Linked DNA regions of Homo sapiens. The protein of the gene in region 1 purifies or fractionates together with the protein of each later gene. This does not show direct contact. Each region holds a gene or a part of one and is shown in the gene's direction. Other genes may lie near its edges.

Region 1 (5,307 bases):
GAACACAGTGTGAGTGGGCATCTTCGCATGAGAGTAGGCGCTGAGTGTATGCGAGTGTGCAAGTGTTATGTGGTCTGAGTGTGTCTGCCTGTGTGTGATGGGGGGCTGGAGGTGGAGGAGGGGGCAGATGCTTGGCTCTAGTTCTACATGACTGAGGCAAATGTTAAAAGTGGTTTGTTCTGGCCAGGCGCGGTGGGTCATGCCTGTAATCCTGGCACTTTGGGAGGCTGAGGTGGGCAGATCATTGGAGGTCAGGAGTTCAAAACCAGCCTGGCTAACATGGTGAAACCCCGTCTCTACTAAAAAGACAAAAATTAGCCGGGCGTGGCAGTGCTTGCCTGTAATCTCAGCTACTCCAGAGGCTGAGGCAGGAGAATCCCTTGAAAGTGGGAGGCAGAGGTTGCAGTGAGCTGAGATTGCATCACTGCACTCCAGCCTGGGAGACAGAGTGAGACTCTGTCTCAAAAAAAATAAAAAATAAAAAAATAAAAAAAGTGTTTTGTCCTTTGAGAGCCATTTTTGGCTTTGATAAGGGACATTAGGAGGAGGAGCCTGGCCCAGATACCCAGAGCGGAGCTGAGACTGGATGCTGATGCAGGCCCCCGACTCTCCTTATACCTGCCTTGCTGTGGGACCCTGGTCCTGTCGGGACCTCAGTTTCCCTCTCTGTGTAGGAGGTTGTTGGGTCGGCTGATGTATCTGAGGGACTTGCTTCTTTAGACAGGGTCCACCCCAGTGCCTGGTGCCTGGGGGTGCTCAGATGGTGCTTGTTGGTTGGTTGAAGGAATGAGTGGGTAAATGGACTGGAAACTGAGGCAGATACTCTGGCTCACCTCTCACTTATGCACACGGGATGCCCCCACCAGCTCACTTTCACACATACCCTCACACCTACACTCAGAGATTCATGTGCATTCACCATCGATTGTCCACCCCTCTTCACCTGCATGCTCCCATGAACTCATACGCTGCCAACCCACACCAGCCTGGGTGAAAAAAAAAAAGAAGAAAGTATGTCCAAATTTGAATCTAATCAAACCTGTTTTCAGAAAATACAGGAGACAGAGGAATAGATTAAAGGACCTCACAAGGAAGCAATCAACCAAGTCCAGAATATAGAACATTCTACTGGACAATGGAGCCAGTTCTCTCCAGAAATCAACCGCATGAACAAAAAAACAAACACAGGGCCAGGCTCAGTGGCTCATGCCTGTAATCCCAACACTTTGGGAAGCTGAGGCGGAAGGATCCCTTGAGCCCAGGAGTTTGAGACCAACCTAGGCAAAACAGGGAGACCCTATCTCTACAAAACACGGTCTCAGGGAGCTTCCACCTCCACCCCCACAGATCTGTTCCCATGGGGTTTCTGGGCTCAATGTTTCTTGGTCTCCAGGGAGGCCCTGCCCTGTCATGCCCCTGACCACAGTGGCTCTTCCGAGCTCCTCTCTTCTCCCTCCACTTTATATCCCAGCGGGCATTCTCTTTCCTCCACTCCCCTTCTTTTATTTTCTCTCTCACCCCCATCCAGAGACGCACAGACCCAAATGTGCACAGGCACATGCTCGCTGTCTGTGTCTTGTCATCTCGTCTTTTGTCTTGGATCTTACCTTGTCTTTGTCCCTGAATCTCCTTGTTCCTCTCATCTCTCCCGGTGTTTACATCTGTCTTTTTCCCTGAGCCTCGCTCCCTCCATCCATTCCTCCGCCCTCTCATTTTTTTTCCCGACTCCCTCCTGCCTCCTCCCTTTCTCCTTTGATTTTCCTGGTCCCTCATCTCTCCTCCCTCCTCTTTCTCACTCTCATGCTCCCTTTTTCGCTCTCTTGAGTACATGCACTTGCTTTCTCTCTCTTGCTTTTCCTCTTTCTCACCTTAGCTCCTGGCCTCGGGCGCTGTCTACACCCCACCCCATCCCTCGCTCTTTGAGAAGCCTCTGTGCAGTGCCCAGGTCCTGGCGGCCCAGCTTGGAAGTTCCTGTGGTACCCCTTGAGAGGCCCTAGGGCCACAGCATTTCCTCCCAGGGGTGACTTGGTAGTGATACGCTCTGTTTCTTCACTTCTGCAATTGCCAGACAGCATAGAGGCTGAGGCTGGGGCCAGGACCCAGACAGAGACACACGGTCACTGCAGCTGAAGCCGCTGCCCCTGCTACAGGTAAGGGGGAATCCTGGCCCCTGCTGGGCAAGGGGGAGGCATATAAAAATGTCCTCAGGAGGCAAACCAAGGTCATGCCCCCAGGCTGCACCTAAGCAGATGGGTGCTTCTATTTCTTTTCTTTTCTTTTTTTTTTTTTTTTTTTTTGAGACAGGGTCTCTCACTCTGTTGTCCAGGCAGAAGTGCAGTGGCGCGATCATGGCTCGCTGCAGCCTGGACCTGCCAGGCTCAGGTGATCCTCCCACTTCAGCCTCCCGAGTATCTGGGACTAGAGGCATGCTCTACCACGCCTGGCTAATTTTTGTATTTTTTGTGGAGACGAGGTCTTGCCTTGTTGCCCAGACTGGTCTCTAACTCCTGGGCTCAAGCAATCAGCCTGCCTCGGCCTCCCAAAGTGCTGGGATTGCAGGCTTGAGTCACTGTGCTCGGCTGCTTCTGTTTTTAAGGGATTTTTCTGGCACCTTTCTCAGGCCCAGAGTCTCATGTTTAGAAATAACTTCTAGTGTCCAAACATTCCTGGAGAACCCAACACCCAAGTTTGGCTTTTCTGAGGCTGGGGCAGTGCTGACCCCAGAGATCCCACTGGGAGGTGTTGATGGTGGTGATGGTGGCAGTGCTGACCCCAGAGACCCTACTGGGAGGTGGTGATGGTGGTGATGGGGGCAGCTTGGATCTCAGGGAGCCAAATGACATCTACTTGACTAGCTGTGTGGTCTTGGCCAAGTTACGCTCCATCTCTGTGCAGTTTTCTAAATTGTCAAATAATGATAATCCCATCTCCCCCACAGAATTGTCGGGTCATATAAAGGATCTGGTACAGGGCGGGGTACTTAGGAACTCACTAAATGCTAGGTTTGCGGGGTGGGGAAGGGGGTGCTGAAAATAACCAGGTTCTTATACACAGGGCCAAGCCCACAAACAATAGCCCCTATCAGGTCCCAGGTGCTGGGGACAGGGCCCAGGCTGGCACCCACCGTCCTCTGCTTGCAGGAGGTCCAGACATGGGGCTGTGCACTCACTCACTTGTGAAATATGACAGAACCAGCAGGCTCTCTCCCCACACCTCTGGCTGCTCTCCTTTAGCTCTGACTGAATACCCAGCTGTGTTCCAGGTGTTTGGGGTGGTGTGTGTGTTGGGGGAGGCGGTAGGGGTGGGAGGTGTGTTGGGGAGTGCTAGAGAAGCAAAAGAGACACCACTATCTTTAGGTGCTGACAAACCGCCGGAGAAAGAGTTCAGCCCCTTAGATGACTGGGTCCTGGGCCTCAGGTGGGCATCCGGGGTTTCGATCTCAGCTCCTGCTGACAAGCCGGGGCCTTGAGTTGTTCGGAAGTTCCACTTTCCTCCTTTGCAGATTGCAGGTTAAAATACTGACCTCTGTGGGCCGGGCATGGTGGCTCACGTCTGTAATCCCAGCACTTTAGGAGGCCGAGGCGGGTAGATCACGAGGTCAAGAGATGGAGACCATCCTGGCGAACATGGTGAAACCCCATCTCTACTAAAAATACAAAAATTAGCTGGGCGTGGTGGCGGGTGCTACTCGGGAGGCTGAGGCAGGAGAATTGCTTGAACCTGGGAGGCGGAGGTTGCAGTGAGCTGAGATGGCGCCATCGCACTCCAGCCTGGGCAACAGAGCGAGACTCCGTCTCAAAAAACAAAACAAAACAAAACAAACAAACCACTGATCTGTGAGTTTGCAGGGAGGATGAAGTAAGAGTTGGGATGGGGAAGTGCTTTGTCAATTGGAAAATGCTGCGCAAAGGGGACTGATGAATTCCCTCTAATGCTGACTCTGGGATTCCTGCTGTTAAACGCCTTAGGGATGAGGAAACTGTTTTGTTCACTGTTGTATCCTTTATCCTTAGCACAGGGTTTGCAACATAGCATATGCTTAGAATATGCACAGGACAGATGAATGATGAAGCGGTTTTTGCAGTTGGAAGGGAACGGACGGTGAGCCAGAGGCCCAGTATCTGGTCCCAGCTCTGCCCCTGACACTGTGTTCACCTTGGGAAAATCCTTTCTCATCTCCGGGCCTCAGTTTCCCCATCTGGTCATTGAAGGAGTAAGGAATTCACAGTTTATGCTATCAGTGACAAAATGTGCCTACAGGACTGAGTTTTCTCTGACTGGTGGTGGGAAGCAGGTATGAGGAGAGGCTGGGATCTTATTGTCCTTTTACAGGGAGCAGAGATTCCCCACTTCCCACCCCAGGCCTGTGAAGGAGGCCTTGTTGAAGAGGATGGCATTCTCTTTCTTGGTGGCATCCCCCACTTTCCTGTTCTGATCCCCTAGATGGGTGGAGGCTTGGACCTCAGAGAGGGCAACAGTGGAGCAGGAGCCGGCAGCACCCCTTGATGGGCCTAGGGGTGTGTGTCTGGGTCGGGAGCAGAGCCAGCTCCCAAAGGGCAAGTGCTGGGACCCTGCTGCAGCCCCCTCTCTGACCACCCCCTCTTGGGCTCCTTGACAGCATGATGAGAGCGGGGAGAAGCCTCTGGTGTGTCTTTGTGTGTGCATGTGTGTCTGTGGTTATGTGGGGTGGACAGGGAGCTGGCTCTGGCTATGTCTACATGTATCTGGAATGATGGGCCGGGAGCATATCCGGGCTGCATGTGGCCTGCTCCAGCCAGACAGCTCCCCTCCCAGGAGCAGATGGCCAGCAAAGCCAGCTGAGAGGCTGATATGCCTCTGTGTGTCTTTGGCCGAGGGGAATCACAGCCAGATTCTGTGTGTGTATTTGTTTGTGTGTTTGTGTGTGAGAGAGAGACAGAATATGCAGGGGGAGGATCACCACTCAGCCACCCCTCCCCACCCCCTTGGTTCTGTAGGTGGGAGATCTTCAGGGCCTGGGTTTGGAGTTGAGCTTGGCTGGCTAATGGGAGAAGCATGTCAAAACCAAATTTGTGCATACCCCGCCCCCCCTCCTCTTTTTTTTTTTCTTTTGAGACAGAGTCTTGCTCTGTCACGCAGGCTGGAATGCAGTGGCGTGATCACACCTCACTGCAGCCTCGATCTCCTGGGCTCAAGCAGTCCTCCCACCTCAGTCTCTCGAGTAGCTGATACTGTAGGTGCACACCATCTTGCCTGATTAATTTTTGTGTTTTTGTTTTTGTTTTTGTTTTTGTTTTGTTTTGTTTGTTTGTTTGTTTTTTGTAGAGG
Region 2 (4,582 bases), on another chromosome or scaffold:
CTCCAGAGCTCCTATGCCTCTTGTTTCACGTCTGCTCAAAACCCGTTCTAGGGAAGCTTGTTTGTGCTGACTGGTGAATTATGAGCCCTGATATTCTGCTCTGTCAGGATGTCACCAGGCACATTAACTCACCCTGCTTGTCCTTTATTTTGGTCATTGGCAGCTTTTAAGTTTCCTGCAGGTGTCAGAGAAGTCCTTGAAGGAGTCCTTCCTGTCATTCACAGCATGAGTTTTCCCACTTTGAATCGCTTCAAGGGTCAGAGCAAAATCAAAGGAGACTTGAACTAAATAATTATACGCTGTCAGGAGAGTGAAAATGTTTTGCTTCTTTCTTGGTCTCAAGGTGTCTTAGCCAACAGGAGCCCTCAGGGCAAATTCTGATAGCTTGTTCCTTAGAACATCAGGGAATTCTGAACATTCCTCTCGTAGCTTAATGTTTCTTGACAGAGCGTTTGCAAGGACCTTGTCTCTTATGTAAGGCAAACAGTCATCTCTATTGAGTAAAGAAAGAAGATTTGCATTTTTTTTTTCTGCCAATGTCTTCTGGTAACAGACTTTAATTACAAAACTGCTGTATAATACTGGGGTTTGGGTTTTAGTAGGATCTTGTAGCCTTATGGTGTATGTTGTATGTGATGATTTTCCATTTTTTATGTGTGTTTTTTTGTCCTCTCAGAATCAGAAATAAAAAGTCTGCTGCTGTCTGACAGAGAGGAAGTCAGTTGTCTAAAAATGCAGAGAGCTTTGCTCCAGTGTTAGCAGAGGGCAAGATAGTTCTACCCTGTATTAATAGCTGCTTGAAAGTCTTAAACCTCATCTCTGGCTCCAAAAATGACTGTGCAAACTGTGGTAGAAGTAACTTCTGCATTCTAGCGAGACAGTCTGTCCATCAGGAAGCCCCAGGATATGGCATGACAGGAAGCAGCTGTGGTCCTGTCAACCAGCCACATCTGGTGGGGAGTCCTGGGTGGGAAGAAGAAAGCTGGCTGGCTGGCTGCGATTTGCTCCTCCTCATCCTGGGCTGGGCTTTTCCTCTTGGCACACAGTGGTGTGGGGAGAAACAGCTTTGGATGTGAGGCCTCTGAACCTTCTCCTGGTCAGAGCTGCCCACCTTTTCCTTGAGATGGTGATGTCTGCTTCCTTGACTGCCAGGGCTAGGACGTTGGGAGGTGTAGCCCTTGGGTGCCTGGGTGTGAGCCCAGCTTCATTTACTCAGGGTGTTGGCACCAAGCTCAGGAGAGAGCAGGTGGAGAGGCGATAGACTCAGAAACTGTCACACCTAGTCACACTCCAGAACAGTCGTTTTTATTTCCGTCATGCAGTGACAGAAATGGTGGATTGCAAAAATATACCTAGTGTTCAGAGCTCATAGTTGACTGTTAAGAGCTGAGAACATTCTTAGAACTCTATTCTAACCTCTTCAGTTTAGAGATGAGGAAACCAAGACCTCAATGAGGATGGTATGTGCCAGAGTCATCAGTTGTTTAGCAGCAGGAAGGTGCTGACCTGGGTCTCATTCCCAGGACAGGGCTGTTTTAAAGGTTTTGAAGCTCAGACATTGGTGTTAAACTGCACTGGGGCTATTTTAGGCTGGCTAAGGAAAGAATGGAATGTAACATCATCACAGTTGTCACCATTCTTGAGAGTACTGGGAGTGGTGAAAGTAACAAATTAGTATTAGCTAAGCTACATTTTTTCTCCAGTGTGAGGGGATGGAATAATACAGATCTTGTGCTTTTGTTCTTTAATTTTTTTATTTTTTATTATTGGTTTTTTTTTTCCACTGGAGAACAATTCTTGGGCTTTTTAAGACAGTTCTTTAAAGCAATATATATTCTGAGTAATGCCAGTCCTGAAAGGTGCTCATGGTTCTGTGGTCAAATAGGTTTGGGAATTGCTACCTATTTCGTTTTTGTTTCTTTGTTTATGTTTTTTGAGATGGTGTTTCGCTCTTTTGCCCAGGCTAGAGTGCAATGGTGCGATCTTGGCTCACTGCAGTCTCCACCTCCTGGGTTCAAGCGATTCTCCTGCCTCAGCCTCCTGAGTAGGTAGGATTACAGGCACCCACCACCACGCTCAGAATTTCTGTATTTTTACTAGAGACAGGGTTTTACCATGTTGGCCAGGCTGGTCACGAACTCCAGACCTCAGGTGATCCACCCGCCTCAGCCTCCCAAAGTGCTAGGATTACAGGCGTGAGCCACTGTGCCCAGCCTGTTTGTTTTTTCAAAGATTCACAAGGCTTGGCCAGGCATGGTGGCTCACACCTATAATCTCAGCAATTTGGGAGGCCAAGGCAGGTGGATCACTTGAGGTCATGAGTTTGAGAATGGCCTAGGCAACATGGCAAAACCCCATCTCTACAACAAATACAAAAAATTAGCTGGGTGTGGTGGCATGCACCTGTGGGCTCAGCTACTCGGGAGGCTGCCACAGGGGGATCACTTGAGCCTGGGAGGTGGAGGTTGCAGTGAGCTGAGGAGTGCCTTTGCACTCCAGCCTGGGTAATAGAGTGAAACTCTATCTCAAAAAACAAACAAACCAAAATAAAGATTCACAAGGCCTGTTAGTTTGTTAAAGGCTCTGAGAAATCCTACAAAAAGACATTGGCTCAGCTTTATTTGACCCAGCATTTCTCAAGGTTATTCGACCATGGAATCTGTTTTCTGCTCAGTCGTTATATCCTTTGAAACTCCCAGTGCACCATTTAGTTGACTTCCTCATCCAAGGTTCTTTATTAAGTGCCTGCTTCCACCCCGCACTGTGGGCATGTGCTTTTATGACCTCTTCCTTGCGTGTGGTTATGATCGGGATGATTAGAAAACTTCCTGCACAGAAAGAGCTGTGAATGGGAAGTTAAGATATGAGTGTGCCACAGAGGTTTGCCCACCTCCTAGGAGGAAGCAGGAAACTGCAAGCCAAGTGTTGTTGATTTCACAGCCTCCACTGGCACACCCTAATTCCTCTGTTGGTTATGGCAGCTGCTTTGTACCCTCTGAGTATTTCGGTCTCTGCTTTGGAATGATCCAGGGTGTCTGCTCCCAAAAGTTTCTCATTAAGTCTTGTCAGGTGATGAAGGGGTGGAAAGCTAAAGGGAGTCATTGTACTGTCCATTTTTCAGCAGTCCACTAAAAATCAGACCACCCAGGCAAGTGCCTAGGGCTGCTTTCCCACTCAGCACTTCTGCCAGATTATCCCAGGCAGACAGCATTGATCTCAAGGAGAGGAAGTGGAATAGGTGGTGGCATTGAACAGAGAAAACCTTTCAGTGTTTGTAAGTTGCCAAGTCACACAATATCACTTTCACACATTGCCTCCTTGCAGTTAAAAGATAATCTCAGTGTTGTGGCTGCTTCCCAAGGATTTGAAATATTTCTCTCCTGTGGAAGGAAGAAGTGGTGGCAGAAACGTGATTTGGGTGTGAACAAAGTTACTTGAATTTCCCTGTGCAGACAGTGGGACCTTCCCAGAGAGGGTTGGCCCCAGCTTGACCATAACTTTGGGAATTCTTGGAATAACCAGATGGACCTGGTAGAACTTTCCTGTGTAACAGAGCATTGTCTCAAGAAATTTGAAAATGGCAGGGTTCTTACAGCTTCACTGTGACTACAGACAGCTGCCCAGATAGGATTCCTGCCTTTATGGTTGGCACCTGGAGCCAGGCTGGGTGTTAAAACTTGGGTAGAGAGATAGGTGAACTTTGACTCTTCCGTTAAGTCTTCTTTGGAAACACTTGGGGTAAGATAATCTTAATTTCAGAGAAATGGTAATATTTAACCAGGACAAACAAGGGGTACTTGCTGTTCATTCAGAGAAGAGTGCTGTGCACATTTGCAAACTGTGACCCATCCAGCAAGTGCTGCTTTGAGATGTTCACGTTAGTGCACATCACTGAGGTCATGCTGCTCTGCAGGCCTGTGCAGGAGACCATGGTAAATGAGCACAGTATGTGATCAATGGCTTCTGGCAGGAGAGCTAAGAAATACTCACTGAGGCTGGGGCGCAGTGGCTCACGCCTGTAATCCCAGCACTTTGGGAGGCCAAGGCGGGCGGATCACAAGGTCAGGAGTTCGAGACCAGCCTGGCCAATATGGTGAAACCCCATCTCTACTAAAAATGCAAAAATTAGCCAGGCGTGATGGCGGGCACCTGTAGTTCCAGCTACTCGGGAGGCTGAGGCAGGAGAATCGCTTGAACCCGGGAGGCGGAGGTTGCAGCGAGCCGAGATTGCACCACTGCCCCCCAGCCTGCATGACAGAGCGAGACTCCATCTCAAAAAAAAAAAAAAAAGAAAGAAAATAAATGCTCACTGAGAGTGACAGCACATCACAAGTGGGATCAGGGCAGTGTCCAAAGGAGCTGGGAGGGCTCTCAGGAGGAAGGGCAGAGACCTGTGGCACAGAGGGCTTGGACTGAAAGCAGAAAGCCTGGCAGATGGGAAAACAGGGTTATTCATTTATTTTTTGAGACAGAGTCACACTCCCGAGTAGCTGGGATTACAGGCGTGCACTAGCATGCCTGGCTAATTTTTGTATTTTTCGTAGAGGTGGGGTTTCAACCACGTTGGTCAGGCTGGTCTCAA
Region 3 (5,137 bases), on another chromosome or scaffold:
GGTGGAGGCAAGCATCTGGAAGATATTCAGGAAATAAGTGGAGAGGGCTTGGTGACACTGATATCTGAGCGGGAAGATAGAGAGAAAGAGGCCCAAGTTTCTGGCTTTAGAGACCAGGTGGTTGTCAGTTAGAGATTATTTCTAAGCCACTCTCAGTTCTTGTTCTTTTTTCTTTTTCTTTTTCTTTTTTTTTTTTTTTTTGAGATGGAGTCCCGCTCTGTTGCCCAGGCTGGAGTGCAATGGCCTGATCTCGGTTCACTGCAACCTCCGCTTCCCAGGTTCAAGCTATTCTCCTGCCTCAGCCTCACAAGTGGCTGGGGTTACAGGCGCCCGCCACCAGGCCCAGCTAATTTTTTTGTATTTTTAGTAGAGACAGGGTTTCGCCATGTTAGGCTGGTCTCGAACTCCCGACCTCGGGTGATCTGCCCGCCTTGGCCTCCCAAAGTGCTGGTATTACAGGCGTGAGCCCACCGCGCCCGACCTCAGTTCTTTTTCTAATTAGAAAATTCACTGATTGTCTAACAAAACTCCACCATCTGCTTCTTTGAACCTCACCTATATCTGCAGGGAAAGAACTGGGTCAGAAAGGGCAGTAATTGTAGAAGCAGGTAAATTAAGGGCTTTTCAGGCCAGAAGTCACTTGTGATTTTTCCACTGTGCTTCTTCCCCTGGGGAGAGAGAAGCTTAAGTCCACTTCCTTACACGTTGCTCCCAGGTGGCAAAACAGAAGTCACTGCTCAAAGGTCCGATTTTCAAGGGGAACTCCCTAGACGGCAGATCCCCTTTAAAACAGCTGAGACAAACACAAGGGTAAACTTTTTCAAAATAATCTGCCATACAAAGTGAAGAGAAGCCCAAAGACATACACAGTGATAAATAAGAACAAAAACATAGACTAACGGACCTCGAGATACTTTACCGTCAATTAACAATAACCATGTTAGGCTGCCCAACTCACAGAGTCAAAGGACAGACCTCTCTCCTTGCGCGCCTCTGCGCCAAACCGGGTTTCGGCTTGCTTATCGTGGGCTCTGAACGGTCACTGTGCGGCCAGGGAAGTCTCCAGCACAGCCTCGGGAAGACATTCCTATTACATATTTATCACTTTGGCGCTGGCCATTCGTGACAGGTGGGAGACGAGTGAGGTGAGATTCAGATGTTGGGACCCTTGCATGGGACAGATGCCCAAAGCTTCGCCCCTTCCCCGGTTTGGGGGCCACGAACCGCCTCTCAGGGCTCAGCCTCAGCAGCAGGTGGTTCAGCCGGAAAGTGCTTCGAACCCAGACGCCGCCTGCGCTCCATCTCCCCGGCCCTCGCTAGTCCCGTCCCGCGGGGACAGCTCTCGGGCCTCGGCCAGCGCGAGCCTCCTGGCCAAGAGCTCTCAAACCCCAAATCTTTCCAGGAGCAAGCGAGCGGCCTAGCAGCCACTCCTCTCCCGAAGGGGTGTCAGGGTCCTCGCTGCCAGGCCTCAGCCCCCTCCCCGGGAAGCCGTCGCGAAGGAGTCCCCAGGGGCCGCAGCAGCGAAGGCCCTCTGCGTTCCAGGCAAGGAGCTTTCCGCCAGGCTGAGGTCGCCGCCGGTGAGGGCGGAAGTGGTAAGACTGACGTGTCCTGGGCCGCGCTGCCGATCGCCGGGAGGACCCCCGCCTCGCCGAAGACGGGCGGGGCAAGCCGAGCCTCACGGGGTCCCCGGAGCTGGGCCGGGCCTCCAGATGGAGAAGGCGCAACGGGGAGTTCTTGAGTAAGCCAGAGCGGTGTCCAGCGCGGTGTAGCCGCAGCCGCCGCTGTCAGGCGCAGCAACGGGCAACCCCGTAGAAGTCGGTCGGCAGGTCCTCTCCAACCCGCCGCTACCGCGCCGCTGTGGGAGAGACCCCAGCAGGAGCCCAAAGGCAGCTACGGGGGCGCGAAGGCCGCTGGCGCCGCCTCGGCCAGCCCTTCCCGCGCGGTGAGGACCCCGGGGCTGTGGCGGGAAGGGACCCGAGGTGCGAGACCGAGCGGCGTTGCCATGGAAACGGGCCAGGGCGCGTAGTAGAGGCCCCGGGCCAGACGGGCTGCGGGTGGGGTGAACCCCAGGTTGGGAGGATGAGAGAGCAGAGGTGGAGCGGGGTCTTTGGGATAGAGAGACGTGGGGTAGGGTGAGGCGGGGAGGGGGCCAATGGGAGCAAGTGGAGCCAGGGGACCTCAGTTCGAGGCACCTGACCTGGGGTTTCTGTAACCTCCCTGGTTTCTATAACCTCAGGATTCCCCCAAACAGGTTCCACTGCCTTAAGGATGACAGTCGTAGGGAACCCTCGAAGTTGGAGCTGCCAGTGGTTGCCAATCCTGATACTGTTGCTGGGCACAGGCCATGGGCCAGGGGTGGAAGGCGTGACACACTACAAGGCCGGCGACCCTGTTATTCTGTATGTCAACAAAGTGGGACCCTACCATAACCCTCAGGAAACTTACCACTACTATCAGCTTCCAGTCTGCTGCCCTGAGAAGATACGTCACAAAAGCCTTAGCCTGGGTGAAGTGCTGGATGGGGACCGAATGGCTGAGTCTTTGTATGAGATCCGCTTTCGGGAAAACGTGGAGAAGAGAATTCTGTGCCACATGCAGCTCAGTTCTGCACAGGTCAGCCTCTCCACATTGGCTATCACGTAGCCCTCCTTCCCAGAGACTAACAGTGCCTTACATTTATGGTTCAGGGTACCTTTATGGAAATTGTCTGATTTGATTCTAACTACAATACAACCCAGTGTGGCAGGCAGGTTAGGTGATGCTATTCTAATTCAGTTGACTAAGATACATACTTGCTCAGAAGTTACTTTTTTCAAGATTACATGGACAGTGATTTGCAGAACTGATATCAGAGCCCAGGGTTTCTTACTGCAAGCTTCTCTGTTGGTCATGAGGTCCCAACTATCAGTCCCACATAGTTCTGTTTCCTTCCATGCCTACCTCTTGGCTGTTTCTTAGCTGTTTCCTGTAGTCTCTACCTAAACTTCCCTGTCATGCTTTTTCTTTAGTGAATCCTGGTACTTCTCCTTAGTCCACTCCAGACCTCCTTATACCTCACCGCTCTCCTTTTTCTAGGCCTTAACCCTGTCAAGCCATACTTGCTCTTTTTTGGAGAATCTCAACATACTAGAGTCTAACCCAGTGATTGTCAACAGGGAACAGTTTTGTCCCCCAAGGGACATTTAGCAATGTCTGGAGACATTTTTTGTTGTTACAGCTGGGGGGGTACTACCAGCATAGAATGGGAAGAGGCCAGGAAAGCTACATCCTACAGTGCACGGGATAACCCCACTATGACAAAGAATTATCCAACCCAGGCTGGGTGTGGTGGCTCACTCCTGTAATCCCAGCACTTTTTTTTTTTTTTTGAGACAGAGTCTTGCTCTGTCGCCCAGGCTGGAGTGCCGTGGCGCAATCTCGGCTCACTGCAAGCTCCACCTCCCGGGTTCACGCCATTCTCCTGCCTCAGCCTCCCGAGTAGCTGGGACTACAGGCGCCCGCCACCACGCCCAGCTAATTTTTTGTATTTTTAGTAGAGACGGGGTTTCACCGTGTTAGCCAGGATGGTCTCGATCTCCTGACCTCGTGATCTGCCCGCCTCGGCCTCCCAAAGTGTTGGGATTACAGGCATGAGCCTCCGCACCCGACCAATCCCAGCACTTTGGGAGGCCGAGGCAGGCAGATCATGAGGTCAGGAATTTGAGACTAGCCTGGCCAACATGGTGAAACCCTGTCTCTACTAAAAATACAAAAATTAGCTGGGTGTGGTGGTGGGCGCCTGTAATCCCAGCTACTCGGGAGGCTGAGGCAGGAGAATTGCTTGAACCCAGGAGGCAGAAGTTGCAGTAAGCCGAGATCGCACCACTGCACTCCAGCCTGGGTGACAGAGCAAGACTCCATCTCGAAAAAAAAGAATTATCCACCCCAAAATATCAGTAGTGCTGAAGGTGAGAAACTTTGCTGTAACTCTGCGCCTGGGGAGATCTTGTGTGACCAACTCCTGACTTGCTCTTTATAGGTGGAGCAGCTGCGCCAGGCCATTGAAGAACTGTACTACTTTGAATTTGTGGTAGATGACTTGCCAATCCGGGGCTTTGTGGGCTACATGGAGGAGAGTGGTTTCCTGCCACACAGCCACAAGATAGGACTCTGGACCCATTTGGACTTCCACCTAGAATTCCATGGAGACCGAATTATATTTGCCAATGTTTCAGTGCGGGACGTCAAGCCCCACAGCTTGGATGGGTTACGACCTGACGAGTTCCTAGGCCTTACCCACACTTATAGCGTGCGCTGGTCTGAGACTTCAGTGGAGCGTCGGAGTGACAGGCGCCGTGGTGACGATGGTGGTTTCTTTCCTCGAACACTGGAAATCCATTGGTTGTCCATCATCAACTCCATGGTGCTTGTGTTTTTACTGGTGGGTTTTGTGGCTGTCATTCTAATGCGTGTGCTTCGGAATGACCTGGCTCGGTACAACTTAGATGAGGAGACCACCTCTGCAGGTTCTGGTGATGACTTTGACCAGGGTGACAATGGCTGGAAAATTATCCATACAGATGTCTTCCGCTTCCCCCCATACCGTGGTCTGCTCTGTGCTGTGCTTGGCGTGGGTGCCCAGTTCCTGGCCCTTGGCACTGGTGAGGTGATAAAAATGAATTGGGGATTTATCTCATGGGATAGAACTAGGTAGGGAGTTTGTTCAGAAAAGGTCTGTGGATCTTCTCTTCTATCCAGAGGGGCAGACCTAAGGGATAGGGTGGCTCTAGCAAGAATGCACGTATTCTATTGTAGATTTTCTGGATAGCAAAACTGGGGGAGATTGTTTTGCTGGAGGCCCTGGGTCTGGGAGAAGGGGGGCTGATTCCTCTGAAATTGCTAGAAGAGACACAGGTGAGGCCTAACTTGGGCTTTCCGCTACCGTCCTGCAGGCATTATTGTCATGGCACTGCTGGGCATGTTCAATGTGCACCGTCATGGGGCCATTAACTCAGCAGCCATCTTGTTGTATGCCCTGACCTGCTGCATCTCTGGCTACGTGTCCAGCCACTTCTACCGGCAGATTGGAGGCGAGCGTTGGGTGTGGAACATCATTCTCACCACCAGTCTCTTCTCTGGTGAGGACTTTCCTTTCCCT
Region 4 (4,582 bases), on another chromosome or scaffold:
GCACAGTCCTGATGGGCCTCACAGGAGCTGGTCCGGCTTTGCCTCACCTCTTGGCCCTTGATCATCACAGTGTGCTTTTTAATTAAGCAGCATGCCCAGGATTTTGACCATGTTGGTGGTATTTGGACTTTTTTTTTTTTTCCACTGTGGAACTTAGTGTTCAAACAAAATTAGACACAGAAGTCCCAAACATAGATCCTGCCCTTCAAGAGCTCCATAGCACATCTCCCCTGGGAGCTTCCCGAGCGCAGTTCTACGTTTGCATGTGTGACGCTTTTGAGGCCACCTGCTCCCCCACTGGCTCTTCAAGCTTAGAGTCTCCCTGTCTCCTTTTCTTACCATTTTATCTTTTTTTTTCCCCCCAAGACAGAGTCTTGCTCTGTCACCCAGGCTGGAGTGCAGTGGCGCGATCTCCGCTCACTGCAACCTGCGTCTCCTGGGTTCAAGCAATTCTCCTGCCTCAGCCTCCTAAGTAGCTAGGATTATAGGCGCCCACTACCGCACCTGGCTAATTTTTGTATTTTTAGTAGAGACGGGGTTTCACCATGTTGGCCAGGCTGGTCTCAAACTCCGGACCTCGTGATCTGCCTGCCTTGGCCTCCCAAAGTGCTTGGATTACAGGCGTGAGCCACCGCGCCCAGCTCACCATTTTATCTTAAGCACCTAGCACAGTACCTGGCCCATAGTTGGTGCTTATTATATGTTGTTGGTTGAATGAGTAGATGGATAACAGGATGAACAGATGAGCAAATGAATGGAGAAAACATCTGAATGATTGATCACGAAAGTGCCAGGGCTTTAGAGATAGACTAAATGAATGAGTAGGCATGATGGAATGGATCAAGGTTTTATGTTGAATGGGACTGGCTGGATGGTAGGTGAACGTTTGAATTGAGTGAAGGAACACTGACTCAGGGAGGAACTCCGACTCAGGCCCCTCCCTTCCCCCATGCACAGGCCTCTCTGCAGCCCCTAAGGACCTTCAGAAAGTCAGGGCTCTGAGGAATAATTTTCAAAAACCATTGTTGGCCAGGCATGGTGGCTCACACCTGTGATCCCAGCGCTTTGGGAGGCCAACACAGAAGGATTGCATCAGGCCAGGAGTTCAAGACCAGCCTGGGAAACATAAAAGGACCTTGTCCCTACAAAAAAATGTCTTAAAATTAGCCAGGTGTGGTGACACACACCTGTAGTCCCAGCTACTCCGGAAGCTGAAGCAGAAGGATGACTTGAGCCTAGGAGGTTGAGGCTGCAGTGAGCTATGATTGTGCCATTGTCTGCGTGACAGGGCAAAACTCTATCTCTAAAAAAATAAGGTTTAAAAATAAAAAATGAAAAAAAACCATTGTTGCCCATTGTGCTCCCAGTCTCCACTCCCACCCTAGAGGCTGGGTCTCCGCGACAGGCAGCCTTGAGGGCAGCCCCTGGAATAGCCCCTGGGCAGTGGCACTGGCCACCACAGGAACAGACTGAGTCTGTGTCTCTCTCAGACCTCAAAGCAGATGAGAAGAGTTCGTGCACTCTGCCTGAGGGTACCAACTCCTCGCCCCAAGAAATTGACCCCACCAAGGAGAATCAGCTGTACTTCACCTACTCTGTCCACTGGGAGGTGAGAAGGGGCTGGAGCTCATGGGCAGGGGAGGAGGGCTCTGGTCTGTGTCAGGTTCTCCAGCAGGATGCCTGACTCTAAGTGCTTCCTCCCACCTGCCAGGAAAGTGATATCAAATGGGCCTCTCGCTGGGACACTTACCTGACCATGAGTGACGTCCAGATCCACTGGTTTTCTATCATTAACTCCGTTGTTGTGGTCTTCTTCCTGTCAGGTGAGAGATCTGTGGGTTGAGGGAAAGGGGATGGGGGTTGGGGTTGAGGGACTGAGACATCACATCATGTATGGGGGACTTCCAGGGTGTTCTGAGGGTCAGGCGTAGGTCAAAAACAGACATCAGGGCTCTGCTAAGCATCAGGTGTACATAGGTAAACAAGACTCATCTCTAGAGAGCTCTAGAACTCTGGAGAGCTCATTCATGGAGGACAGACACACCTGAGCCTGCACACATTCTTGATTCATTCAACAAGATGTTGTTGTTGCTCATTCTGTGCCAGGCACTTTGCCAGATGCTGGGAATATGGTATGAACAAGCCCGACCCAGTCTCTGCTCCCATAGAGCCTATATTCTAGTGGTGGGAGAGAAACAAAAAAGCAAATAAGTAGTGGAGTTCCAGATAGTGATACATTCTATGAAGCAGATCAACAGGGTGGCCAAATACACAATAGCTGAGGAAAGTGTGAAGGCTCTTTGGGGAAGACCTTTCTTTACGATAAGGAGCCACCATCCAGAGACCTGGGAAAAGTCTGTGCCAGTGAGGATCATGGTCCTGCAGCGAGATAAGCTCAGCAAGAAACCGGGTGGTGAGAGGGTGGTAGGCAGGGGTAGAATGACACTGATGGTTTCACTATCATATGAGAAGCACAGATAATGCTAAATACTGTTTATTAAACATTTACCAAAGGGCCAGCTGCTGAACTAAGCACTTTACAAACATTTCAATCCCTGAAGCCCTGTGAACTAGGCCCGAAAATGTTAAGTGAACTCAAGGTCATATGGCCCATTCTCTTAACCACTACAGTGCTGCCTAGAGAGGGAAACAGGAAAGTACAAATGGGGGTGGGAGTGGCTCTGTACTGTTCAGGGTGCTGGGACGTGAAGATGCCCAGAGTGAGCCTCGAAGCACGCGTAGGAGTCAGTCAGGATATGGCGGGGCATTCTGGGCAAAAAGGATAGCTTGAAGAAAGGCGTGCTGATGAGAACATAGTGAGGCCAGGAGCCAACTGAAGCAGCAGATAGCCAGAGGTGGAGCCACAGGCAGCCCTTGGACACATGAGCTGAGAAGTCAGTAGGACCAAGCGATGGAACAGCTGGGATGCTCCTCTCCCCAGGATACCCCTACCCATCCCAGCAACCCTTTCCTCCCCACCTCCATGCTCTGTGCTCTCCTCCCCTGGTAGCTGGAGTGGAGCTCCCCCGAGAAGAGGCCTTGAGGTGGCTGCATAGCCAGTTCATAATGGAGCAAGCCGTGCATGCCAGCTGTCGCACAGTAAAACATCATGTCTAGGAGGGCATGGAGCATGGGCTTGCTGGCAGCGCCAACTTCTCCTCATCCTCACCGCCATCTATTTCAGGTATCCTGAGCATGATTATCATTCGGACCCTCCGGAAGGACATTGCCAACTACAACAAGGAGGATGACATTGTACGAGGTCTTGGCTGGGGAGGGATGAAGTTGGATGGGGAGGGGAGGAGGACCGTGTGTGTGCATATGTTTGTGTATATTATCATTCAAAGAGGAAACCTCAAAATACTAAAACAGTTTAGTATACTTTTTTTTTTTTTTTTTGAGACGGAGTCTCGCTCTGTCACCAGGCTGGAGTGCAGTGGTGTGATCTCGGCTCATTGCAATCTCCACCTCCCGGGTTCAAGCAATTCCCCACCTCAACCTCCCGAATAGCTGAGACTACAGGCACGCACCACCACACCTTGCTAACTTTTTGTATTTTTTAGTAGAAACGGGGTTTGCCATGTTAGCCAGGATGGTCTCAGTCTCCTGACCTCATGATCATCTGCCTCGGCCTCCGAAAGTACTGGGATTACAGGCATGAGCCACCACGCCTGGCCTAGTATACTTTTAATACTAAAAATGTAATACCAAAAAAGTAAGGAAAAAAGTTTTATTCACCCAAAGTGATAGGGATGGCCTTTCTAATTTTAAAGCATAAAAACCGTGGAAGAAATCACAAAAAATAGTTGATTGATTTGACATTAAAAATTGTAAAACTATTCTGCATGCCAAATACATAAACAAAACAGAAGGCCACAATGGCAAACAATATCTGCAACAAACTTGAAAAAAATGGCACAGTTTAAAGAATTCATGCAAAATCTCTTTGTTTTAAAAAAAACTAGGTCGGGGCTGGGCACGGTGGCTCACACCTGTTATCTCAGCACTTTGGGAGGCCAAGGCAGGTGGATCACTTGAGATCAGGAGTTCAAGACCAGCCTGACCAACATGTGAAAACTTCGTCTCTAATAAAAATACAAAAATTAGCTGGGTGTGGTGGCATGCACCTGCAATCCCAGCTACTCAGGAGGCTGAGGCAGGAGAATCACTTGAACCCAGAAGGCGGAGGTTGTAGTGAGCCAAGAACGTGCCACTGCACTCCAGCCTGGGCAACAAAGTAAGACTCTGTCTCCAAAGGAAAAAAAAAAAAAAAAACTAGAGGACAGTAGATAACTTGAGGTTAGGAGTTCAAGACCAGCCTGACCAACATGGTGAAAACCTGTCTCTACTAAAATACAAAAATTAGCTGAGCCTGGTGGCAGGTGCCTGTAGTTCCAGCTACTCGGGATGCTGAGGCCGGAGATCACTTGAACCTGGGAGGTAGAGGTTGCAGTGAGCCGAGATCACACCACTGTACTACAGCCTGGGCAACAGAGCAAGACTCCGTCTCATAAATAAATAAATAAAACCAAAAAATCTAAAATTTCGAATGTAATGATGAACAGGAAATTTACAGGCAAGA
Region 5 (3,500 bases), on another chromosome or scaffold:
GTGTGGCTGAGAAGAAAACGAGTGACAAAATTGCTGCCTTGGTTCCTGGGGCTAATTAGAAAGGAGTGAGGGGATGGTGGGAAAAGTTTTGCCAAGCCATGGATAGAGCCTAGAAGAGAGGAAAGGGAAGATAGTTGAAGACTCACTAAGCTAGGCGTGGTGGCTCACGCCTGTAATCCCAACACTTTGGGAGGCCGAGGCGGGCGGATCACAAGGTCAGGAGTTCAAGACCAGTCTGGCCAACATGGTGAAACCCGTCTCTACTAAAAATACAAAAAAATTAGCTGGGCATGGTGGCGCGTGCCTGTTATTCCAGCTACTCAGGAGGCTGAGGGAGGAGAATTGCCTGAACCCAGACCCAGGACCCAGGAGGTGGAGGTTGCAGTGAGCCGAGATCGTGCCACTGCATTCCAGCCTGAGCTACAGAGCGAGACTCGTCTCAACAACAACAACAACAACAACAAAAACAAAGTACTCACTAGTCAGGCTGACTTTAGAAAAAGCTTTACTTTACCCACACTAATTTAGACATAGAAATAGAGCTGTTTGGCCAGGCACAGTGAGTCACGCCTGTAATCCCAGCGCTTTGGAAGGCTGAGATGGGAAAATTGCTGAAGCCAGGAGTTCAATAACAGCATGGGCAACAGAGTGAGACCCCTGGGCTACAAAAATCAATTTTTTTTTGTTTTAAATTAGCTGAATATGGTGGTGTACACCTGTAGGCTGAGCTACTTTGGAGACTGAGGTGGGAGGATTGCTTGAGCCCAGGAGTTGGAGGTTGCAGTGAGTCATGGGCCATGATCATGCCACTGCACTCCAGCCGGGGCAACAGAGTGAGGCTCTGTCTCATGTTTTTGGGTTTTTTTTTTTTTCTTTAAGAAAGGTGTGTCTCACTGGAAAAAAAAAAAAAGCTTTGAGACCCTATAAAGTTTGATTCAGTATTTTTAAAATGTTGTGGTGGCTAACTGCAATTACATATGGTATGTGAGGGTATGGAAATGCCATTGTATTCTGAAATAGAGCACTACTTTGCTCTTTTTGCATTGATTTCCTAGGTCAAAAGAATAACATCTTTTTGCAACAGTAATTGAAAGCAATAGATTCTTTTCTGTGTTTAGGTTTTGTTTTGTTCTTACTAGGATGTACCTTTGATTTGGATTTGCATTCCTTTCCCTGTCACTAGCAGAACTTTACAAAATATACTCTGCTATCTATTAATACTAGTTTCGGCTCCCAGATGCTTTATCATATAGAAACAGCATTGTAGAAGAGCAGCTAGCTTCACGCCCCTTTCTAATCAATTAACTATAATCTAGCTGTGAATATTGCCCTTGAAAAGTGGATGACCCTTTGGGGCAAAGAAAATTGAAGACGTGTAAGTTCCCAATTTTGTCAATAAGGAAAGTACTAAAGGCACTCAAAGTAGAAACTGTACGTGCTCTGAGAAAAATGTGTTTGGTTTTGCTTGTATAGAGAAATTTAAATTTTTTAATAGAATTAAACAAAGCAAGAGCAAGAGTTGAAAAGTGGAATGCTGACCATTCAAAGAGTGATCGAATGACTCGAGGACTCCGAGCCCAAGTAGATGACCTGACTGAAGCTGTGGCTGCAAAGGATTCCCAGCTGGCTGTACTGAAAGTGAGACTCCAGGAAGCTGACCAGCTACTGAGTACTCGCACAGAAGCATTAGAAGCCTTACAGAGTGAAAAATCACGGTAGGTGATTCTATGAATAATGAAAAAAATGAGCAAGTAATGGTAAACATTGTAGTGTATCCACTTATGAAACTTAGCTTTCTTGGAAATTTACAAGAGGGAATATTTCTTTTGGTAGTGTTAGAAATGTGTATGATTAAAATGGATTCATTGGCTGGGCGTGGTGGCTCAAGCCTGTAATCCTAGCACTTTGGGAAGCCGAGGCAGGTGGATCACCTGAGGTTGGGAGTTCGAGACCAGCCTGACCAACATGGAGAAACCCCGTCTCTACTAAAAATACAGAAAAAAAATTAGCCGGGGGTGGTGGCACATGCCTGTAATCCCAGCTACTCAGGAGGCGAGGCAGCAGAATCACTTGAACCCAGGAGGTGGAGGTTGCAGTGAGCTGAGATTGTGCCATTGCACTCCAGCCTGGGCAAAAAGAGCGAAACTCCATCTCAACAACAACAACATAAAATGGATTCATTGTTTGAACCTTGAGATGCATTGTTAGCAAATTCTGAATTTAAAAGCATTTGTTGTGTCATTAATCTTTCATTATACGGTATGTACTTAATATTTGGATGCCTAAAAATGTAGATTATGTTCCATTAGAAAGGAAAGATTTATCTAAGAATATTTCAGTCAAATTATCTTTTTTGTGCTTGACTAAAGCTGACGCTCTAAAAATTATTCTGCCTTATCACTTGTACACTGTAGACATGAGTTATTTCACATGATGCATTTTCCTTTAGAATAATGCAGGATCAAAGTGAAGGTAACAGCCTGCAGAATCAAGCTCTGCAGACTTTTCAGGAGAGACTGCATGAAGCGGATGCCACTCTGAAGAGAGAGCAGGAGAGCTATAAACAGATGCAGGTTAGAATGAGAGACAGCAGATTCCTATTGTTACTTGGACACGGAAAAAATGACTTTATGCTGTTTCATAGCACATTAACTGTCTAATATAATTCTGCAATGCATTTCAGAAAATTCTGTTTCTGTGACAAAAATCAGATATTTGAAAATTTAGCTTGATCCTTGCTAAATGTATTTAATTTTATGTGTTGAGAGACAATTAAAATAGTTAATGTGCATTAGAGATATACATCTTTTACTTAATTTTTGCAACAATCATTGTCATTATTTGATTAAATGCTAATGGTTGGGGGATCGTATTTGTTTTTTATTAATTTAAGTTTTTCTGATTCCAGATTAATCTGGCTCATTTATTTCAGGAGAAAATTGTATGTAATATGTAAAGAGTTTTACTCTTAGATGAATATTTGCATTTAGTTCAGTCCCAGCCCTGTCTACACGTGGGAATCACTTGTGTGATACCTTGTGCTGTCTGAGCTCCATATGCAGTCACATTCCATTGTATGAGGTAGGGACTAGGTATTGACACTTTGGTTTTAGAAGGTTCACAGGTGTATCTAATGAGCAGTCAGGGTTGCAAACCACTGGTCTGGGCTAGCTTTTCAACAGGTGAAAGTAATTCAGTCCTGAAAGTAAATATCAGGTAGTGTGTGTCTCTTAATTTTAACACAATATATCCAAAGTATTAATTATTTCAATATGTAGTCAATATTAAAAGTTATTAATGAGATATTTTACATTATTTTTTGAATACTGGTTCTTTAAAATATGGTGTAATTTACACCTATTTATTTACTTATTAAATTGGAAACAGTTGATCAGCTAGTATCAGACCAGACCTAGTATCCAAGTGACCAGGTTCACCTGGGAAATTTCTTAAAAAACAGATTCCCAGACCCATCTTGAAAATTCCAGTTTAGTAAGCTT
Region 6 (4,582 bases), on another chromosome or scaffold:
CTCATCCCCTGACTCACACCCTGGTATTGTGTCTTCCACACCCGTGGATCCTTTAGTTTAATTTTCAGAAGTTGCACTAAAATATAACTATTGTTGTAGCTCCATTTATTCATCTAAGCCCTAGTTCATGTTCATTTCTCAGAGTCTGTGTCCTTTACTGTCTTCCCTGAGCCCTACACTCTAGATATGGTAACAGGTAGAGAATTCTGTTTAGGGAAGGGTTGTGTTTCAAAGAGCACATGCAAAGCATAGATAAGAACTGGATATGTATTGTTCTGTAGAATCGGAGCTGTAATGGTGTAACTGTTATTAGGTCAGCTCATAGGTGCCAGTCAGTCCACAGTGTCTCTGGAGTGTGGGCCTCAGCCTGTGACATCATGGGCAACTGGAATTCTGGAAAAAGACAATCAGAGTGGTAACATAGACATAGCCCTCTTGTCTCACCCTTATGATTGGGCTGGGAGTAAAAAAACTCCTTCCCCAAACTAGCAGTGAAAAATCCTATGTTTTTATATCTGTTCCCCTAAGGCCATTTATCTTTTATCTTTTTTTGTTTGTGTGTTTGTTTGTTTTTGTTTGAGACAGGGTTTTTCTCTGTCAACCAGGCTGGAGTGCGGTGGTGCGATCACAGCTCACTGCGGCCTCGACCTGCTGGGGCTCAGGCAATCCTCCTGCCTCAGCCTACTGAGTAGCTAGGACTACAGGAACATGCTACCATGCCTGGCTAATTTTTGTATCTTTTGTTGAGACTAGGTTTTGCCATGTTGCCCAGGCTGGTCTCAATCTCCTGGGCTCAAGCCATCCACCTGCCTCAGCCTCCTAAAGTGCTGGGATTACAGGCTTCAGGCACCACATCCAGCTGGCCATTCTTCTTAAAACCAGATCAGTAAGGTGAAATAAATTATAGGTGCCATTGGACACCACAGGCTACTGTGCAACAATTGGTTAAATCTTTTAAAAAAATGTTTTAAAAAGTAAACAAGAACATACTCCTGAATGACTACATAACTCCATGTGGTTGGATTTTCAGCAAAGCAGTCATCTAATCTTGAATGAAGGATCTGATCCCAGCTCCTGTGTCCTAGGTGGGTGTGGTAGATTGCATTAATGTTCAAAATGCCCCTCCCTGGAGTACATTTTCTGCCCCTCCCTGGAATACAAATATTTCTCCAGTCATTGGTCTCAGGTGTGGCCATGTATCTTTTGGCACTCCCTTCTGCTCTGTTGAATTTGAGTTATTATGTGATTTGTTCCAGTCAGTGAAATGTGGGTGGAAGTGATCTGTGTCACTTTTGAGCAGTGGCTTTGAGAGCCAGCTTGTGGTGCACTATTCCCCTTTTTTCTCTCTACCACAAAACCAGCAATGTTAAAAACAAACAAACAAACAAACAACAACAACAACAAAAAACAGTTCTATCTGCCTGGGTCCTAGAGTACAAACAACAGGCAACAGAGGCACAATTGACCTGTAAAGGACAAGTACTATGAACAAGAATTAAACCTTAGTTCTTATAAGCCACTGAGATTTTGGGGATCATTACTGAAGCCTGTCCTTATTCGTGTAGTGTGTAATGATTGGGGTTGGGGGCCGGGTCTTAAGCCCTGTAAGCATTCTAAAAAAAATTTCCATACTCCGTGAGCAGATTGCTAGATGCTTTCTTTTCTCCTGAGGATTTAGAAATTGGCCTGTTGCCTTTTTTTTTTCTATTGAATCTTCATTTTCCCCTCCTTCTGCTCTGTGGGAGGAGTAAATCTTCCTGTCCCATTGTTTTGGCCAATGAATGATGAGTGGACTTGATTTGTGGCACACTGAAACAAGGATGTAAATGTACCTGCATGTTTTGACTTGGCCTCTTGTGCAGCTTCCAGGCAACGTAAGAACACGCCCCAGGTGGCTGTTTCCTCTGCAGCTTGATCTAGAAGGAGGGGCATGTGGCATGAGCTAATTCTGACCTACATTCTGGAGCTGACCCCAACTGAGCCACAGCTATCCACAAACCCGTATGCAAGAAATACATGTTATCACTTTAAGTTATAAAGATTTGAGGCTGTTAATCACCCCAGCAAAGCTGATCAATATAGGTAGGGACCATGTGTCCTCTGAACCAAATCCCTCTCTTTTCCTGATTGTCAGTAGAACAGCAGTCTCACAGACGTAGTTTTAAAGTAAAGGACTATGTGAGATGTTAATGATTTTATTGTCCCCAGTAGGATAAATTCCCTGGGACCAAAGGTTCTCCTGATGTCAGTTCTAGGTGTTTCCATTTCTTTCCCCCCTGACATATCATAGTAAGTGATAGCCTTTACTATGTGCCTGGCATTTTCCAAACTGCCTGCCCTATCTCATTGTCTCTAGTTCCCTCCTCTAGATTGATCCAGCTCCCTTGTGGTAATAACAAAGGCAGGGATAATAGTATGAGCAGAAATCCACTCGAATGCCTCCTTTTCCAAGGCCAATACTGCAGGAGTGGGAGTTCAGCCCAATTCTAGTATTGGCTTCCATCAGCAGTGATGTGGAAGTGGTGAGGCCACGTTCAATCACGTTCAACCACATGGTTTGTTAACTCCATTGCGCTGAGCAGAGCAGAGGAAGAAGCAACCAGTCTGCAATATGCTGGATGTTCACAAACCAGCAAGACTGGGGTTGCATAATTCAAACCTCTCCTTGCTTTGTTCCCTCTTTGGGTACTATCCAGATCTCTTAGTACTAGGATAGTCTGTCTCACCTTTGGAGTCCCATAGTACAATCTGCTTCTGTGGCTGAAATGAAACTTGTTTCTCTACTTGAGAAATTAACCATGTCACTGTACATTTGGTATTCTACACAACTGTAGAGGGCAGAGTAGGCTAACTGCTGTAATAAAGTCCAAAAATTATTGGTGTCTAGACACAGTGGTTTATGTATTGCTCACAACACAGTCCACTCTAGTTTGGGAGGGTACTGGGAGGTGGGCAGCGGAAGGGACATCTGTTCCATGCCGTCCCAACACTGGGATATGTATGTAAAGGATTCAAGGACCCAGGCTTCTGCCATCTGGTGGCTGTACCTCCTCTAGATCCACCAGGGCTCTCCATTCAGCTGGCAGATGGGGAAAGAGAAAGTCGAGATGGCACATCTGTTCTCAACTACCTTGTCCCAGGTGTGACACCTGTCACTTTGCTGACAAGCCCTAGTCACATGACTCCACCTGGAGAAGGCAAACTAGGAAATGAGGTCTTTCTGTGTGCCCAAGGGGAGACCATGGATATGAGAGCACTGGCTGAGTCTGCTCCACAGCAGCCTCGTATGGTTCCTGGGCAATCCTCCCTTTGCAATAACTCACAAACTATACAGTTTTCCTCCAAATGTGTGTAAACCTTATGATGCGTCTGAGGCAACAGATTTACTTTCTGTACTGCAGACACCATTTAGTTTTGCATTGACCTTACTAGCAATTATTATTTTATACTGGCTTTGCCCTTTTCATTCTGTTTTTTGGCACTAGTCTGTTTTCCATCAGAATATTAGACCTGCTTACTTCTAAAATATTTTTGTGAGTTTGAACACATGGATAGATTTTAATGGCATTTTTACTCTGCATTATTTTGCTTTCTAACACATTTAATATTCACAGTAACCCTATGAGACAGATATTATTATTTCCATTTTAGAGCTAAGAAATATAAGATATGGAGAGGTAAACTTCCCACCAAATGAGAGGCAGAGCTAGGATTCACACCAATATGAGCCTGGCCTCAGGCCCATGCTCTGAATCATCATATCACACAGCATTTTTTCCTGGACCAAACTGAGGGCAACTGTCTCTTCCATATTCACCTCTGCCTTTCCCCCCCCGCTCCCTCATTGAAAAGCTACTCATGGATCTTCCTCCAGATGTTTCCTCCCTCCCCAAGCCTGGGGCTCTAGAGTTTGCTTGCTTATGGGAAATACTTCCTCTCATTGGTTCCCATGATCTATAAAAATAAAATGGGAGAACAATCAGGATTAAATTAATATGCAATGTTAAGTATAGTTGTGTGAGATTAGAAGCATATGAATGGAAAATGACATTAAATAACAAAGATACTTCAGAGAATCCTAAGTATTCCTTCTCTTGTTGGACAAGTTTTTTTTGGAAATTGCTATATGCACAGTTAATCAACAAGTATTTTCTGGGCCCTTATTCTGGAACTTGCTCTAAATGTGTATATTTCCTTTGTGCCAAGCCTTGCTTTTTTGCCCCCGTTTTAAGAACCCATTGTCTGTGTAGCTGGTGAATAGAAATAATGATCCCAACAGCCTACCTGGAGATTTTCTGGCATTGTAAACCTAACTAAGTATCTTTAGGCGTGATGATTTGGTTGAATGCACCGAGATCGTATTACTCATAGAAATAATAAAAACATCCAGAGGTTGTTAGCAGACACAACCAAAGAATGGTTTACTGTAGAAAATACTTTAGAGTCTGTAGAAGCTACAGAGCCTCCTATTATAATTTCTGGTTTGATATGTGCTGAGCTCAGTTCTTGTCCTTTTGTTTTTTTGTTTGTTTGTTTGTTTGTTTTTTTAAGTTACTCTTACCATTCCCTACTTCCTCTCTCT
Region 7 (3,250 bases), about 16 Mb from region 1:
TGTGTGTGTATGTTTTTAAATCTTAGGGCTGTTGAATCCATCAGTAGCAAAGGGGCCCAGCACGTGTTTATTCAGCAAGTGTCTATTGAATGCTTCTGCCAGGGCTGTTTTAGGCATGGGTGGTGGCCTGCACCTGTAGTCCCAGCTACTCAAAGGCTGAGACGGGAGAATCACTTGAACCCGGGAGGCGGAGGCTGTAGTAACCTGAGATCGTTCCACTGCACTCAAGCCTGGGCAACACAGTGAGACTCTGTCTCAATAAACAAATAAATACATACATACATAAAGCTACAAGACTGGAGAGAGAAAGGACAGAGAGGAGAAGTGGCCTGAGACTGGCCTCAGCACTGGTGACTGATCTGGCGCAGGATGTCTGACCATAGGGTTGGTGCCAAGTCCTGGCTAAGTCTGTGTTCCTCTGGGCTCTGGCACCAGGCCCCGCTGCTTTTTAACAGGATTCTAGATTTCAGGCCCACAGGCTCAAGTTGGTCGTGTAAACAAGACAGGCTGACTTTCTTCTATACTTTAGGGAGATGGGCACCACTGTCTTTATCATTAAGGCACAACACCTCACTCTTCTGCTGCCCTTGGTCTTTATTTCGTATGCTCTGCCTCCCAGCTGTCCTTCCCCCTTAACATGCCGCTTTCATGGTGTTGCAGGAGTGGAAATGAAGAAGATCACTGACACCCACACGCCGTCTGGCCTCACCGTGAACCTGACGCTCTATTACATGCTCTCCTGCTCGCCAGCCCCACTGCTCAGCCCCTCCCTGAGCCACAGGGAGCGAGACCAGATGGAGTCGACGCTCAACTATGAAGATCACTGCTTCAGCGGGCACGCCACCATGCACGCCGAGAACCTGTGGCCGGGGCGGCTGTCCTCCGTCCAGCAGATCCTGCAGCTCTCTGACCTGTGGAGGCTGACCCTCCAGAAGCGTGGCTGCAAGGGGCTGGTGAAGGTGGGTGCCCCAGGCATCCTGCAGGGGATGGTGCTCAGCTTTGGGGGGCTGCAGTTCACAGAGAACCACCTCCAGTTCCAGGCCGACCCCGACGTGCTGCACAACAGCTATGCATTGCATGGCATCCGCTACAAGAACGACCATATCAACCTGGCCGTGCTGGCGGATGCCGAGGGCAAGCCCTACCTACACGTGTCCGTGGAGTCCCGTGGCCAGCCTGTCAAGATCTATGCCTGCAAGGCAGGCTGCCTGGACGAGCCAGTGGAGCTGACCTCGGCGCCCACGGGCCACACCTTCTCGGTCATGGTGACACAGCCCATCACGCCACTGCTCTACATCTCCACCGACCTCACACACCTGCAGGACCTGCGGCACACGCTGCACCTCAAGGCCATCCTGGCCCATGATGAGCACATGGCCCAGCAGGACCCCGGGCTGCCCTTCCTCTTCTGGTTCAGCGTGGCCTCCCTAATCACCCTCTTCCACCTCTTCCTCTTCAAGCTCATCTACAACGAGTACTGTGGGCCTGGAGCCAAGCCCCTCTTCAGGAGTAAGGTAGGAAGCCGCCATCTGGTCGAAACCCGAGGCCTTGGCCTTGCTCTCAGCCCTGTGTCTCGGAAGGGGCTAGCCTGGCGAGGGGGGGTGAGGCCTGGGCAGGAATGGGTGTCCTGATGCCCTCAGCCCTTGACACCAGAGAGCGCGCACAAGTGTTTTGAGAGGAGACGACGAGGAAGGGAAAGCTGGAAATCCAGGTGTGAATTGATGGTCTTCTGGCTTTCCAGGGCAGCCCTCCCCTCCTCCCGCATCATAAATCTCAGCATTTAAAAATAACTGCAAGCTGGGTGTGGTGGCTTGTGCCTGTAGTCCCAGCTACTTGGGAGGCTGAGATGGGAGAATCCCTTGAGCCCAGGAGTTTGAGGCTGCAGTGAACTATGATTGTGTCATTGCACTCTAGCTGGGGCAACAGAGCAAGACCCTGTCTCAAAAAAGCAAAAAACAAAAAAGCAAATAAAAGTAAAAAAAAAAAAAAAAAAAAAATTAGAGGCAGGGCCTGGTGGCTCATGCCTATAATCTCAACACTTTGGGAGGCCGAGGTGGGAGGATCCTTCGAGCCCAGTAGTTTGAGACCAGCCTGGGCAGGATAACGAGGACTTGTCTCTACAAAAAATTTAAAAATCAGCCAGGCGTGATGGTGCACGCTTGTAGTCCCAGCTACTTAGGAGGCTGAGGTGGGAGGATCACTTGAGCCCAGGAGTTTGAGACTGCAGTGAGCTGTGATTACACCATTGCACTCCATCCCAGGTGACAGAGTGAGACCCTGTCTAAAAATAATAATAATGAGGCTGGGTGCAGTGGCTCATGCCTATAATCCCAGTACTTTGGGAGGCTGAGGCGGGCAGATCACCTGAGGTCAGGAGTTCAAGACCAGCCTGGCCAACACGGTGAAACCCCATCTGTACTAAAAATACAAAAATTAGCTGGGCATGGTGGTGCATGCCTGTAATTCCAGCTACTCGGGAGGCTGAGGCAGGAGAATTGCTTGAACCCGGGAGACGGAGGTTGCAGTGACCCGAGATCATGCCAGTGCACTCCAGCCTGGGTGACAGAGTGAGACTCTGTCTCAAAAAAATAAAAAATAAATAATAAATAATAATAATAATAAAATAAAAATAACTGCAACAAGCCCCTAGATTGACTTGAAGCCTCTGTCTGAACTGCTGGCGGGATCCCCAGCTTCCCCCCATGTGCCTGTTCATGGCATGCAGAGGTCAGCCCCTTGCTCCAGGCCTCGGACCAGAGTGGCCATCTCGTTAGCATAGGACACAGGACAGAAGCATTGCCCTCAAGTTTCCTGAGACATGTTTGCCCCTGGAAGCGGTGATTTTGGCCATCATTGCTGCAAGACTGTCATCGGGGCAGCATCTTAGCATCAGCATTGCTGTCGCGGGGTGAGGCTGCCTACTGTGCCCTGCCGCCCGGCCTTCTGTGCTTCCTCAGGAGAAAGACCAGCAGGGATTCCAGGGGGAGGCCTTTGTTAGCAGTTGTAGAAGAAAATGTTTCCCAAAGAGCTGAGCTGTTTCCCTTTCTCTTCTCTCCTCCTGTATCCCGTCTCCTCCCCTCTACTCTTCCTCCCCTCCCCTCCCTTCTCTTCTTTTCTCCTTTATCTTCTCTTTTTAAACTGTAGTGACAGTAGAGAGGTATATTAGGCTCTGCGTCTGTGCCCCCAAGTAGTCAGAGAGCCCAGATCCCACCCTGGAGAAATGGGAAGTGTCCCATCACATCCACAGGGA

What was found.
Region 2: the proteins of PTAFR (region 1) and SCAMP2 purify together in Homo sapiens (affinity purification with mass spectrometry; one large-scale study listed by BioGRID and IntAct). This does not show direct contact.
Region 3: the proteins of PTAFR (region 1) and TM9SF1 purify together in Homo sapiens (affinity purification with mass spectrometry; one large-scale study listed by BioGRID and IntAct). This does not show direct contact.
Region 4: the proteins of PTAFR (region 1) and TM9SF4 purify together in Homo sapiens (affinity purification with mass spectrometry; one large-scale study listed by BioGRID and IntAct). This does not show direct contact.
Region 5: the proteins of PTAFR (region 1) and GOLGA5 purify together in Homo sapiens (affinity purification with mass spectrometry; one large-scale study listed by BioGRID and IntAct). This does not show direct contact.
Region 6: the proteins of PTAFR (region 1) and PGAP4 purify together in Homo sapiens (affinity purification with mass spectrometry; one large-scale study listed by BioGRID and IntAct). This does not show direct contact.
Region 7: the proteins of PTAFR (region 1) and KIAA2013 purify together in Homo sapiens (affinity purification with mass spectrometry; one large-scale study listed by BioGRID and IntAct). This does not show direct contact.

What each region holds. Positions count from the first base shown.
Region 1 is NC_000001.11:28,173,435-28,178,741, reverse strand, and holds the start of PTAFR (platelet-activating factor receptor), read left to right. Parts: upstream 1-2,051; 5' UTR 2,052-2,150; intron 2,151-5,307. UniProt on the Homo sapiens protein: Receptor for platelet activating factor, a chemotactic phospholipid mediator that possesses potent inflammatory, smooth-muscle contractile and hypotensive activity.
Region 2 is NC_000015.10:74,866,507-74,871,088, reverse strand, and holds part of SCAMP2 (secretory carrier-associated membrane protein 2), read left to right. Parts: intron 1-4,582. UniProt on the Homo sapiens protein: Functions in post-Golgi recycling pathways. Acts as a recycling carrier to the cell surface.
Region 3 is NC_000014.9:24,192,151-24,197,287, reverse strand, and holds the start of TM9SF1 (transmembrane 9 superfamily member 1 isoform a precursor), read left to right. Parts: upstream 1-1,846; 5' UTR 1,847-1,942; intron 1,943-2,251; 5' UTR 2,252-2,268; coding exon 2,269-2,613; intron 2,614-4,018; coding exon 4,019-4,640; intron 4,641-4,931; coding exon 4,932-5,117; intron 5,118-5,137.
Region 4 is NC_000020.11:32,143,601-32,148,182, forward strand, and holds part of TM9SF4 (transmembrane 9 superfamily member 4 isoform 1 precursor), read left to right. Parts: intron 1-1,490; coding exon 1,491-1,609; intron 1,610-1,711; coding exon 1,712-1,823; intron 1,824-3,184; coding exon 3,185-3,255; intron 3,256-4,582. UniProt on the Homo sapiens protein: Associates with proteins harboring glycine-rich transmembrane domains and ensures their efficient localization to the cell surface.
Region 5 is NC_000014.9:92,807,805-92,811,304, forward strand, and holds part of GOLGA5 (golgin subfamily A member 5), read left to right. Parts: intron 1-1,495; coding exon 1,496-1,715; intron 1,716-2,449; coding exon 2,450-2,573; intron 2,574-3,500. UniProt on the Homo sapiens protein: Involved in maintaining Golgi structure. Stimulates the formation of Golgi stacks and ribbons. Involved in intra-Golgi retrograde transport.
Region 6 is NC_000009.12:101,477,174-101,481,755, reverse strand, and holds part of PGAP4 (GPI-N-acetylgalactosamine transferase PGAP4), read left to right. Parts: intron 1-249; exon of another isoform or gene 250-393; intron 394-1,030; exon of another isoform or gene 1,031-1,085; intron 1,086-1,832; exon of another isoform or gene 1,833-1,916; intron 1,917-4,582. UniProt on the Homo sapiens protein: Golgi-resident glycosylphosphatidylinositol (GPI)-N-acetylgalactosamine transferase that catalyzes the N-acetyl-beta-D-galactosamine transfer from an UDP-N-acetyl-alpha-D-galactosamine to the 4-OH-position of the first mannose of the glycosylphosphatidylinositol (GPI) of a GPI-anchored protein (GPI-AP).
Region 7 is NC_000001.11:11,920,900-11,924,149, reverse strand, and holds part of KIAA2013 (uncharacterized protein KIAA2013 precursor), read left to right. Parts: intron 1-660; coding exon 661-1,514; intron 1,515-3,250.